Linked DNA regions of Homo sapiens: region 2 is linked to region 1. Evidence: fine-mapped expression QTL. A gene starts in region 1. The other region holds a variant in brackets. All regions are shown on one strand. Distances are from middle to middle.

Region 1 (5,524 bases):
AGTCTGTCCAGGACACGAAACCTTCTGCACTGAAACTGAAAGTCCCTGGCAAACTGCTACCAGTCAGTCACCCTATTTGTCCCCTAGTGCCGTGTCACTTCCCAGTGGCTCTGGAAAAAGAAAGCCAAGGGTTGGGAAGGCTGAGACCAAGTTTCCAGGCAATTTTTGGGCTGGCTTGCTGGCTTTATTTATTTATTGAGACAGAGTCTCACTCTTGTTTGCTTGCTTGCTTAATTGATTGAGACAGGGTCTCATTCTGTCACCCAGGCTGGAGTGCAGCGGTGCGATCATGATCACTGCAGCCTCTACCTCCCCACCTCAAGTGATTCTCCTGCCTAAGCCTCTGAGTAGCTGGGGCTACAGGCGTGCACCACCATACCTGGCTAAATTTAAAGATGTTACAGAGGTGGGATCCCACTATGTTGCCCAGGCTGGGCCTCTAACACCTAGACTCACACGATCCTCCTGCCTCAGCCTCCCAAAGTGCTGAGATTACAAGCACCAGAGAGCCACCATGCCGAGACTGGGCTCTGCTACTGATGTAAACAAAGAATGCTTTTTGGTAACAAATTAAAATAGAACTACACCAACCTTCCCCTACCCTGACCCCCACGGTTTAAACGAAGTAAAACTAACACAGACCCTTCAAAAAACCTTTACTAGGACCCAGGAGGGTCCACTGCAGAACTCAGGGGTGGAAGCTGTGCCATGATGGCTTCCAGGGGTAAAGGAAGAAGAAACGCAAGGCTGACCGAGTAGCCGGCCCTGCCTGGCACACAAGCCAGGGAGATGAAGCAGATGGAGGGCAGGCTGGCCTTCGTTTCAGCCCTGAAAGCAGGATCCCTGACGCGCTGTGGGGAAGGGTGCCCTCCCCACAACCTCCCTTAGGGGAGCGGCCACCCTAACATCACCTACCACGTGCCCAGCACTGACCTTCTTGTCTATTACCCGCAGGGACCGGAAGTAGGAGTAGAAGAAGGTGTCTGTGATCGTCAGCGGGTTCCGGATGGCCAATTCTCTCAGGAAACTGTCTTCTGCATTCGAGTTGTTCAGCAGAGCCCAGGGGGAGTGGCGGCTGCGGACCAGGCCCAGCAGGGCCTCCACCGTCTCCTCTCCGGGGCTCACCACATCCTCCTCTCTGGGGACAAGCTCCCTCCAAGTTCGCCAAGTTTGAGGAAGAAAGCGCGACTTATTCTGCAGTGGCAGAGGAGGGATTTTCTGTAGGTGTGACACAGCCCCCTTAAGGACACCAAACTCTCAAAACAGAACAGATCATAAAACTGGACGATTAGGGATAGAGTTTAGAAATCTAGAGAGTAGGCCAGGTGCGGTGGCTCATGCCTGTAATCCCAGCACTTTGGGAGGCTGAGGCAGGCGGATCATGAGGTCAAGAGATCGAGGCCATCCTGGCTAACACGGTGAAACCCCGTCTCGACTAAAAATACAAAAAATTAGCCGGGCGTGGTGGCACGCAACTGTAGTCTCAGCTACTCGGGAGGCTAAGGCAGGAGAATCGTTTGAACCCGGGAGGCGGAGGTTGCAGTGAGCCGAGATCACGCCACTGCACTCCAGGCTGGGTGACAGAGCGAGACTCCGTCTCAAAAAAAAAAAAAAAAATCTAGACAGTGAATAATCAATAATTTTGATGGATTATTAGCCATGGATATAACTACAGATGAGGTGAGATACAAAATAATTAAAAGGTGCCATTCCTTTTAAAAAGGCAGGTGGATCACTTGAGGTCAGGAGTTTGAGACCAGCCTGGGCAACATGGTGAAATCCTGTCTCTACTAAAAATACAATAATTAGCCGGGCATGGTGGCAGGTGCCTGTAATCCCTGCTACTTGGGAGGCGGAGGTTGCAGTAAGTCGACATCGCGTCACTATGCTCCAGCCTGGGCAGTAAGCCTTCCTGGGCCACACCTGGGCGCCCCTCGTGGTTGAAGCCACGGGAGGGAAGGGTCTAGGACTCTGGAGACAGGGAGGCAGGATGGGGGGTAACCCCTTCTCCTGGACTCAAGGTCGCAGGCTTCAGGCTGAGCCACCTCTCACACTGCCTCAGGCTCTTATTAAATGCTCGGAGGCTGGGAAAAGTTGTGGAACTCTTTGCCCAAAACAAAAGCTTTTCACCCCAAAAGGAGCCTGCCCACTAGAAATCTGGGGTGTTGACGTCTTCAAGTCAGGGAGAGGCCCCAGCCCAGGTCAGCTGATGTGCTCAGGACGGGCCCCGCTCTCCTCCCCGCGCAGTGCCCGCGACTCGGGCCCCACCGTCACCCTCAAGCCCCACCCGCCCCCATGTCGGCGGCCCCCAGAATGCGCAGATCCCAGGCCCCAGGGACCAGCCCGCTCCGCTCGCCCGGGCCCGTGCCTCCCCGCAGCCGGTCCAGGCCCCCAGAGTTCCGGCCCCGGCGCCCGCACCCAGCTGCCGGCACCGCACGGGAACTCGCGCAGACACAGCTTCCGCAAGTGCTCGCGCACGGCCGCGCTCACGGTCCCGGTCCCGGGCCGCTGAGTCCCAGGCCCGGCCTCAGACTCGGACTCGGACTCGGACTCGTACGACGCCTCCATGGCCCGGGCCGCGTTGCCCGGCAACCGCTAGGACGCGTGCGCGGGGGCAGGGGCCTCTCCAGGCGCTCTCACCTGCCCCGAGGGAAAAGTCCCCCATCCGGATCAGACAGCCTGGCCCCAACCACCTGCGTTTTCTCTTCTGCCCTCATCTATAAAAATGGGATAACAGCTGGTGGTTCTAAGTGCGGCAGCTCCCGCAGGCAGTAAGCGCCATAGCTGACCTGTTTCTTAGCTCCTGTCAAGCACTCCCCACGGAAAGTCATCCTATACCCATCTGACAGATGGAGAAAGGAGAAGAGGGCCCAAGGTCAAACATCTCGACTCCAACCAGCCAGTGGGTTCCAGGGTGGTCTCTCTAACCCTGGAGTCAGGGATTTTATCACTGTCCACCTGTATAACTGTTTAATCACCCAGACCTCATTTTTTAAATTTTTTATTTATTTTATTTTATTGAGACAGAGTCTCGCTCTGTCGCCCAGGCTGGAGTCCAGTGGCGAGATCTCAGCTCACCGCAATCTCCGTGTCCCGGGTTCAAGCGATTCTCCTGCCTCAGCCTCCCGAGTAGCTGGGATTACAGGCGCGCATGACCACTTCCGGCTTTTTTTTTTTTTTTTTTTTTTTTGAGACCGAGTTTCACTCTTGTTGTCCAGGCTGGAGTGCAATGGCGCGATCTCGGCTCACTGCAACCTCCGCCTCCCAGATTCAACCGATTCTCCTGCCTCAGCCTCCCGAGTAGCTGGGATTACAACCGCCTGCCACAACGCCCCGCTAATGTGTATTTTTAGTAGAGACGGGGTTTCACCATGTTGGCCAGGCTGGTCTCGAACTCCTGACCTCAGGTGATCCACCCACCTCGGTCTCCCCAAGTGCTGGGATTACATACGTGAGCCACCGCACCCAGCCTAATTTTTTGTATTTTAGTAGAGATGGAGTTTCACCATGTTGCCCAGGTTGGTCTCAAACTCCTGGGCTCAGGCAATCCACTGGCCTCAGCCTCCCAAAGTGTTGGGATTACAGGCGTGAGCCACCACGCCCAGCCATGAAGCTTCTTTTATAAGGACATTGATCCCATTCCTGAGGAGCCCCCAAACTTAATCACTTCCCAAAGGGCCCCACGTTTTAATACTATCACACTGGGCATCAGGTTCTGACAAATGAATTTTGGAGGAACACATTAACATCTCTCATTCTTTTTGACTATACGATATCGGGACAACTTTACTGTTATTAGAAAAATTAGGCTGGGCGCGATGGCTCACCCCTGTAAACCCAGCACTTTGGGAGGCTGAGGTGGGTGGATCACCTGAGGTCAGGAGTTCGAGACCAGCCTGATCAACATGGTGAAACCCCGTCTCTACTAAAAATACAAAAATTAGCCAGGCGTGGTGACACATGCCTATAGTCCCAGCTACTTCGGAGGCTGAGGCAGGAGAATTGCTTGAACCCAGGAGGCGGAGGTTGCAGTGAGCCGAGATCACATCACTGCACTCCAGCCTGGGCAACAGAGTGAGACTGTCTCAAAAAAAAAAAAAAATTTATCCAAAACTGGGAGTTAAGGCAAAAAGATGACCATATGTCCTTTCTTTTCCTTTTTTTTTTTTTGAGACGGAGTCTCCCTCTGCCGTCCAGGCTGGAGTGCAGTGGTGCAATCTCGGCTCACTGCAAGCTCCGCCTGCCAGGTTCACGCCATTCTCCTGCCTCAGCCTCCTGAGTAGCTGGGACTACAGGCGCCCGCCACCAAGCCCGGCTAATTTTTTGTATTTTTAGTAGAGACGGGGTTTCACCGTGTTAGTCAGGATGGTCTCGATCTCCTGACCTCGTCATCCGCCCACCTCAGCCTCTCAAAGTGCTGGGATTACATGCATGAGCCACCGGGCCCAGCCAACCATATGTCCTTTCAAAGAAGAAAATATCCTTTTTTTTTTTTGAGGCAGGGTCTCCCTTTGTTATCCAGGCTACTGTGCAGTAGCGTGATCACAGGTCACTGAAGCCTGGACCTCCTGAACTGAAGCGGTCCTCCCACCTCAGCCTCCTGAGTGGCTGGGACTACAGGCATGCATCACCATGCCTGGCTAATTTTTTTGTATTTTTAGTACAGATGGGGTTTCGCCATGTTGCCCAGGCTGGTCTCGAATTCCTGACCTCAAGTGATCCACCCACCTCAGCCTCCCAAAGTGCTGAGATCACAGGCGTGAGCCACCATGCCTGGCTCTCAAAGAATAAAATAAATATCTATGAGTCCATAGTGATATAAATAAATCAAGGAGATGAATCACAGATATGGCTCCTGCAATTTTGATGGAGCAACAGATGGACAATGTGCAGTGAAGGAAGAGAAGACTGAGAGGGGAAATCAAGCATCCTGTTTGGAACAAGTTAAGGTCCAGATGCCAATGGGCGTCTACTGTGTCAAATCAGCCATTGGTTAGGAGTAAGAGCTCAGGAATGAGGTCAGGTCTGGGCAGACCACAGAGCCCAAGATACACAGAAGAGGCCCAGCCAGGAAGCCCTTCCACCCTTCATCCCAAGTCCCCCTGCAGCCAACACTGTCTCTTTTCTCTTCCTTCTCATCCAAGCTTCTTGACACAGTGGTCTATACTCACTTTTTCTTTTTTTCTTTTCTTTTGAGACGGAGTTTTGCTCTGTTGCCCAGGCTGGAGTGCAGTGGCGCAATCTTGGCTCACTGCAACCTCCGCCTCCTGGGTTCAAGCAATTCTCCTGCCTCAGCCTTCTGAGTAGCTGGGATTGCAGGCTCCCGCCACCATGCCCAGCTAGTTTTTGTATTTTTAGTAGAGACAGGGTTTCTCCATGCTGGTCAGGCTGGTCTCGAACTCCTGACCTCAAGTGATCCACCTGCCTTGGCCTCCCAAAGTGCTGGGATTACAGGTGTGAGCCACTCGCCCCTGGCCTATGCTCACTTTTTCCTCACTTCCCAAACCACCACAATATAACTGCC
Region 2 (5,000 bases), 140 kb before region 1:
CAGAAGTTGCAGGAAACCGAGATCATGCCATTGCACTCCAGCCTGGTTGACAGAGCGAGACCCCATCTAAAAAAAAAGAACAGCCAGGTGTGGTGGCTCACGGGGGCTGAGGCAGGTGGATCACCTGAGGTCAGGAGTTCGAGACCAGCCTAACCAACATGGTGAAACCCTGTCTCTACTAAAAATACAAAAATTCGCCAGGCGTGGTGGCGTGCGCTTATAATCCCAGCTACTCAGGAGGCTGAGGCAGTAGAATCACTTGAATCCAGGAGATGGAGGTTGCAGTGAGCCGAGCTTGCGCCATTGCACTCCAGCCTGGGCAACAAGAGTGAAAAACTCTGTCTCAAGGGAAAAAAAAAAAAAGCAATAAATTGGCACATATTGAAATATAGTCTTCTGTTTGGCTTTTAACTATTTCATTGTGTCTGTCCATTTGGAGTTGGAAGATTCCATTGAAATCTTCATGGCTGATAATTGGATAGGGAAAAATGCAGAATTTTCATAAACTTTATTAGACCAATAAATTATAAACAAGTGCCTAAAGGACTTTATTTATTTATTTATTTATTTATTTATTTATTTATTTAAGACAGAGTCTCACCGGGTGCGGTGGCTTACACCTGTAATCCCAGCACTTTGGGAGGCTGTTGCAGGCGGATCACGAGATCAGAAGATCAAGACCATCCTGGCCAACATGGTGAAACCCCGTCTCTACTAAAAATACAAAAATTAGCCCGGTGTGGTGATGTGGGCCTGTAGTTCCAGCTACTCAGGAGGCTGAGGCAGGAGAATCACTTGAACCAGGGAGGCGGAGGTTGCAGTGAGCTGAGATTGCACCACTGCGCTCCAGCCTGGTGACAGAATGAGACTGCCTAAAAAAAAAAAAAAGAGTCTCGCTCTGTCACCCAGGTTGGAGTACAGTGGTGTGACCTTGGCTCACTGCAACCTCTGCCTCCCGGGTTCAAGCGATTCTCCTGCCTCACCCTCTTGAGTAGCTGGGACTACAGGTGCGTGCTGCCACACCCGGCTAAGCTTTGTATTTTTAGTAGGGACTGGGTTTCACCATATTGACTCCTGACCTTGTGATCTGCCTGCCTCGGCCTCCCAAAGTGCTAGGATTACAGGCATGAGCCACTGCGCCTGGCCTGTTAATTAATTTATTTTTTTAGAGGTGGGAATCTTGCTGTGTTTCCCAGGCTACTTTCCACCTCCTGGGCTCAAGCAATCCTCCCGTCTCAGCTCCCTGAGTAGCTGGGACTGTAGGCACATGCTACCATGCCTAGCTATATTTTCATTTATTTTTATGGTTATTTTTACATCTAACTTTTTTTTTTTTTTTTGAGACGGAGTCTCGCTGTGTCGCCAGGCTGGAGTGCAGTGGCGCAATCTCAGCTCACTGCAACCTCCGCCTCCCAGGTTCACACCATTCTCCTGCCCCACCTCCCAAGTAGCTACAGGCACCCGCCACCACGGCCAGCTAGTTTTTTGTATTTTTATTAGAGACGGGGTTTCACTATGTTGGCCAGGATGGTCTCAATATCTTGACCTCGTGATCCGCCTGCCTCGGCCTCCCAAAGTGCTGGGATTACAGGCGTGAGCCACTGCGCCCGGCCTATATCTAACTTTTTATAATTAATTTTGATAGTTAACAGCTAAGAATTTGTCTCCATATGCATCTTTTTATTCACAGCCGTGTTTTTATTCATTACCCACAACTTGCATTAAATGCTTCTCGTTAAACACTTGAGCCTTATGTTAGAAGTGCCCAAATAATTTTTATATTTATTTGAAAAATTCTCAGCCTAAATTTGAGTGACTTTGAAAGCCCCAGATTTGAAATAGCAAGGATGGTATTTTAAACTTATAATAATAAATATGATTCCAAGAAATTCAGCTATATAAGGATGTTATTCATTGTTACCTCCGAACGGTCTCTCAAACATAAGTCAGAATGAAGGGAGCATGCTTGCCAGTGTCATTTGGAACTTTCACTGGAAGATGTATGTTTACATGCAAATTGCATAACAATTGACATTGAAAAATGGCAGGAAAGGGTCTGCATATTCTACTTCAGAGTAAAGACCTTTCCTGTCCTGGTCCGTCTGTTTCAGCACTGGATTGTGACTGATTCACCCTCTCTGTGTGCCTCCCTTACCCACACAGACACTGAGTGCTGCCTGAACAGCACAGCCCGATCCTCACCTAACGGTGTTGGCGAGGGCTGTCCTCATTTCTCACAGTGTTTCCTTGTATTTAGGCTGCTCAAACAGCGGAAGATGCCATGCAGATAATGGAACAGATGACCAAAGAGAAGACTGAGACTCTGGCCTCCTTGGAGGACACCAAGCAAACAAATGCAAAACTACAGAATGAAGTAATCAGATTTAAATAGCTTTTTATACAAAGAACAGCTTACCAACTTGGTAGAATGTTTGGTCACTGACTCAGGATTGCTTATGTTTTTGAAGTGTGTGACTTTACACAGGTTTGAAATGCATGCCAGAGCCACGATAATCTTAAATAAAGTGTATCACTTCATTACTTATTAGGATCAACTTTACAAATTGAGGAAAAAATCCTAATAGTGTGGCTAAGGTGACTGTTTACTGATGGCACTAGTGAGAGGAGGTACTGATGGCCTGCTCTAGCTTTTGTATCCTT[G/C]ATCTTACATCACACACATTGTTTTTTCTCTTCTCTTTCCCAACTTTGAGCCACTAAGTTTTCTTCCTCAGCCCTGAGTCTGATGTAGGCCTTTTCTTGGCCCAATTCAGTACTGATTTCCTTTTGTGTCATCTTGAATGAGTCACTTTTGGAGCAGGGACAAATATGTGGCGTCAAGATATTTTGATTCTGTCCACAAGTAGCATTTCTCCTTCTGTGGCATTTCTCCTCCTCTTTGGATTTCCCTGCTCCCACCCTCCTAGCTCATACCAACCCTTTCTTCATTTGGAAAGCTGTTATCTAAATCCTAAGCCGACTGAGGCACCAAAATGGTTATGTGAAGTCCTGTGGAACTTCAGATGCTTTTTTGTTGTTGTTGCTTTTTTTGTTTTGTTTTGTTGTTGTTGTTTTGAGATGGAGTCTTGCTCTTGTTGCCCAGGCTGTTGTGCAATGGCATGATCTCGGCTCACTGCAACCTCCACCTCCTGGGTTCAAGTGATTCTCCTGCCTCAGCCTCCCGAGTAGCTGGGATTACAGGTGCCCACTACCACGCCTGGCTAATTTTTGTATTTTAAGTAGGGACGGAGTTTTGCCATGTTGGCCAGGCTGTTCTGGAACTCCTGACCTCGTGATCCTCCCACCTTGGCCTCCCAAAGGGCTGGGATTACAGGCATGAGCCACCACGCCCAGCCCAGATACTTTTAAAAGTAATAGGCAGGTAAGACATTAAGGAAGGAAAGCAAGGGGGAGGCAGTGGCCAAACTGAGGAGCCACTGTAAAGACCAGGCCTCCTCATTGTGGAGGTCAAGGATCAACTTTTCAAAGGAGATGAACATTTGGAGGTAATGATATGATAAATAACAACACTTCACATAGAAGGAAGTACATTTATAGAACTGACAATCCTAAGAGAAGATGACTTAAACTAAAAGTATAAAAGCATTAAAAAATCATAGCTGTTAATCAAAATTAGAAGCTGAAGTAAATGAGAGGATTTTAGGGAATGTGTCTAACCTGCAGCAGTGGAACCAGGGGGAACTGTGTCGTTCTATAACAGATCCCTTGGTGTCTTTGTTATAGCCAGAATTCAGGGTTGGATGAACCATATTTTCGGACCCATTGTGATATTTTATTTTTCTTGTTCTGTTAATCTGGAATGTTAGGTGTTAAAAGGAAGATGGTAGTTGTAAAACTAGCAAGACATTTTCTAGGACTCCTGACTGGTGGCATGTGGCATGGCAAAAGGAGATAGCTCCCTTTTCTGGCTGTAGGAGACAACTTCTCAAGGCCCAGAAAGCCAGCATGGCCCCAGGAGCCACCTTGAGGAATGGAGGCCCACATGAGCTACCATCCTTGGTGGTGGCTCTGCACCTAGAGCTCCAACCACCTGCCACAGCCTATGATCAGTCATATCCCCACTCATCCCAGTGACAGCTCTGGCTTTCCACCAAGAGCCAGGCCCTCAGCTGGCTGCATCCCCGTGGGCCAATGATGGAGCCAGGTGGGTGTAAGTGCCCTTCAGTCCCACGACATGGCTTTTTCCTCTTCAGGTTCAAGTTCAGATGGGTAACTAAATTTTTTTCCAGTCTACAAATAATTTTGATTCAAATAAATAATTTTTGTAATGAGGACTATGTAAATCTGGTACTGACATTGAAAAATATCGTATCCTAAATCACTAATCTTTGGGGAAAGAAAAGGGTTTCTTTTCATTACAAAGAATAATCCTTGCTGATGTCATTGCTTTGCATTTTATTTCTTGTTTTTAATCATATTTGAATAGCAAGTTCAGTGATAAGTGCTGATAATTGTACACAAGATAAAAGAAAACTTTACTTCTGTGTAGCAATCTAGTTTGACCTTTTGGCCAGGTGTACAGGATATATATATATCAGACTAAATGTAAGGAGGAGGTTTGCAGTTTGTAATAGACTTGTCATCTGTAATCTCTTCACCCAGGAGACTTTTTTTTTTTGCGAGTGACTAATTTCATCTGTCTTTTCAGTACACATTTTCATGAATAATTTGTTCATTCATGTCACTGGAAAATGAAATAATTTCATCAAGTTTTTTTCTCTTGGTCTTTAAGTTGGACACACTTAAAGAAAACAACTTGAAAAATGTGGAAGAGCTGAACAAATCAAAAGAACTCCTGACTGTAGAGAATCAAAAAATGGAAGAATTTAGGAAAGAAATGTAAGTTTCTATCCTTTGAGAAAAAAATATGGAATTTATTTTAAATTGAAAATGTGAACACAATGCTAATTACTTAAAAATTATTTGAGAAGTACATAAAGTAAACGTATGCAGACTCTATTGCATACCCCAGAAGCAACATC

The links. PIP is the estimated chance that this variant, and not a neighbour inherited with it, causes the effect.
Region 2: its variant is the best candidate, but not a certain one, in a credible set for the expression of LRRC43 in nasal epithelium (TOPMed, PIP 0.54).

What each region holds. Positions count from the first base shown.
Region 1 is chr12:122,180,189-122,185,712 of GRCh38, reverse strand. LRRC43 (leucine rich repeat containing 43) reads right to left here and starts at 2,590. Exons shown (of 12, transcript NM_001098519.2): 1 at 2,419-2,590; 2 at 934-1,194. The coding sequence starts at 2,568. RefSeq lists an enhancer at 800-869 and a silencer at 2,463-2,562.
Region 2 is chr12:122,316,606-122,321,605 of GRCh38, reverse strand. CLIP1 (CAP-Gly domain containing linker protein 1) reads left to right here. Exons shown (of 26, transcript NM_001247997.2): 18 at 2,258-2,374; 19 at 4,751-4,857. Among named protein-coding and RNA genes, the nearest start is that of VPS33A, 53 kb to the right of the region's middle. The variant G/C (reference allele first, on the strand shown) is at 2,662.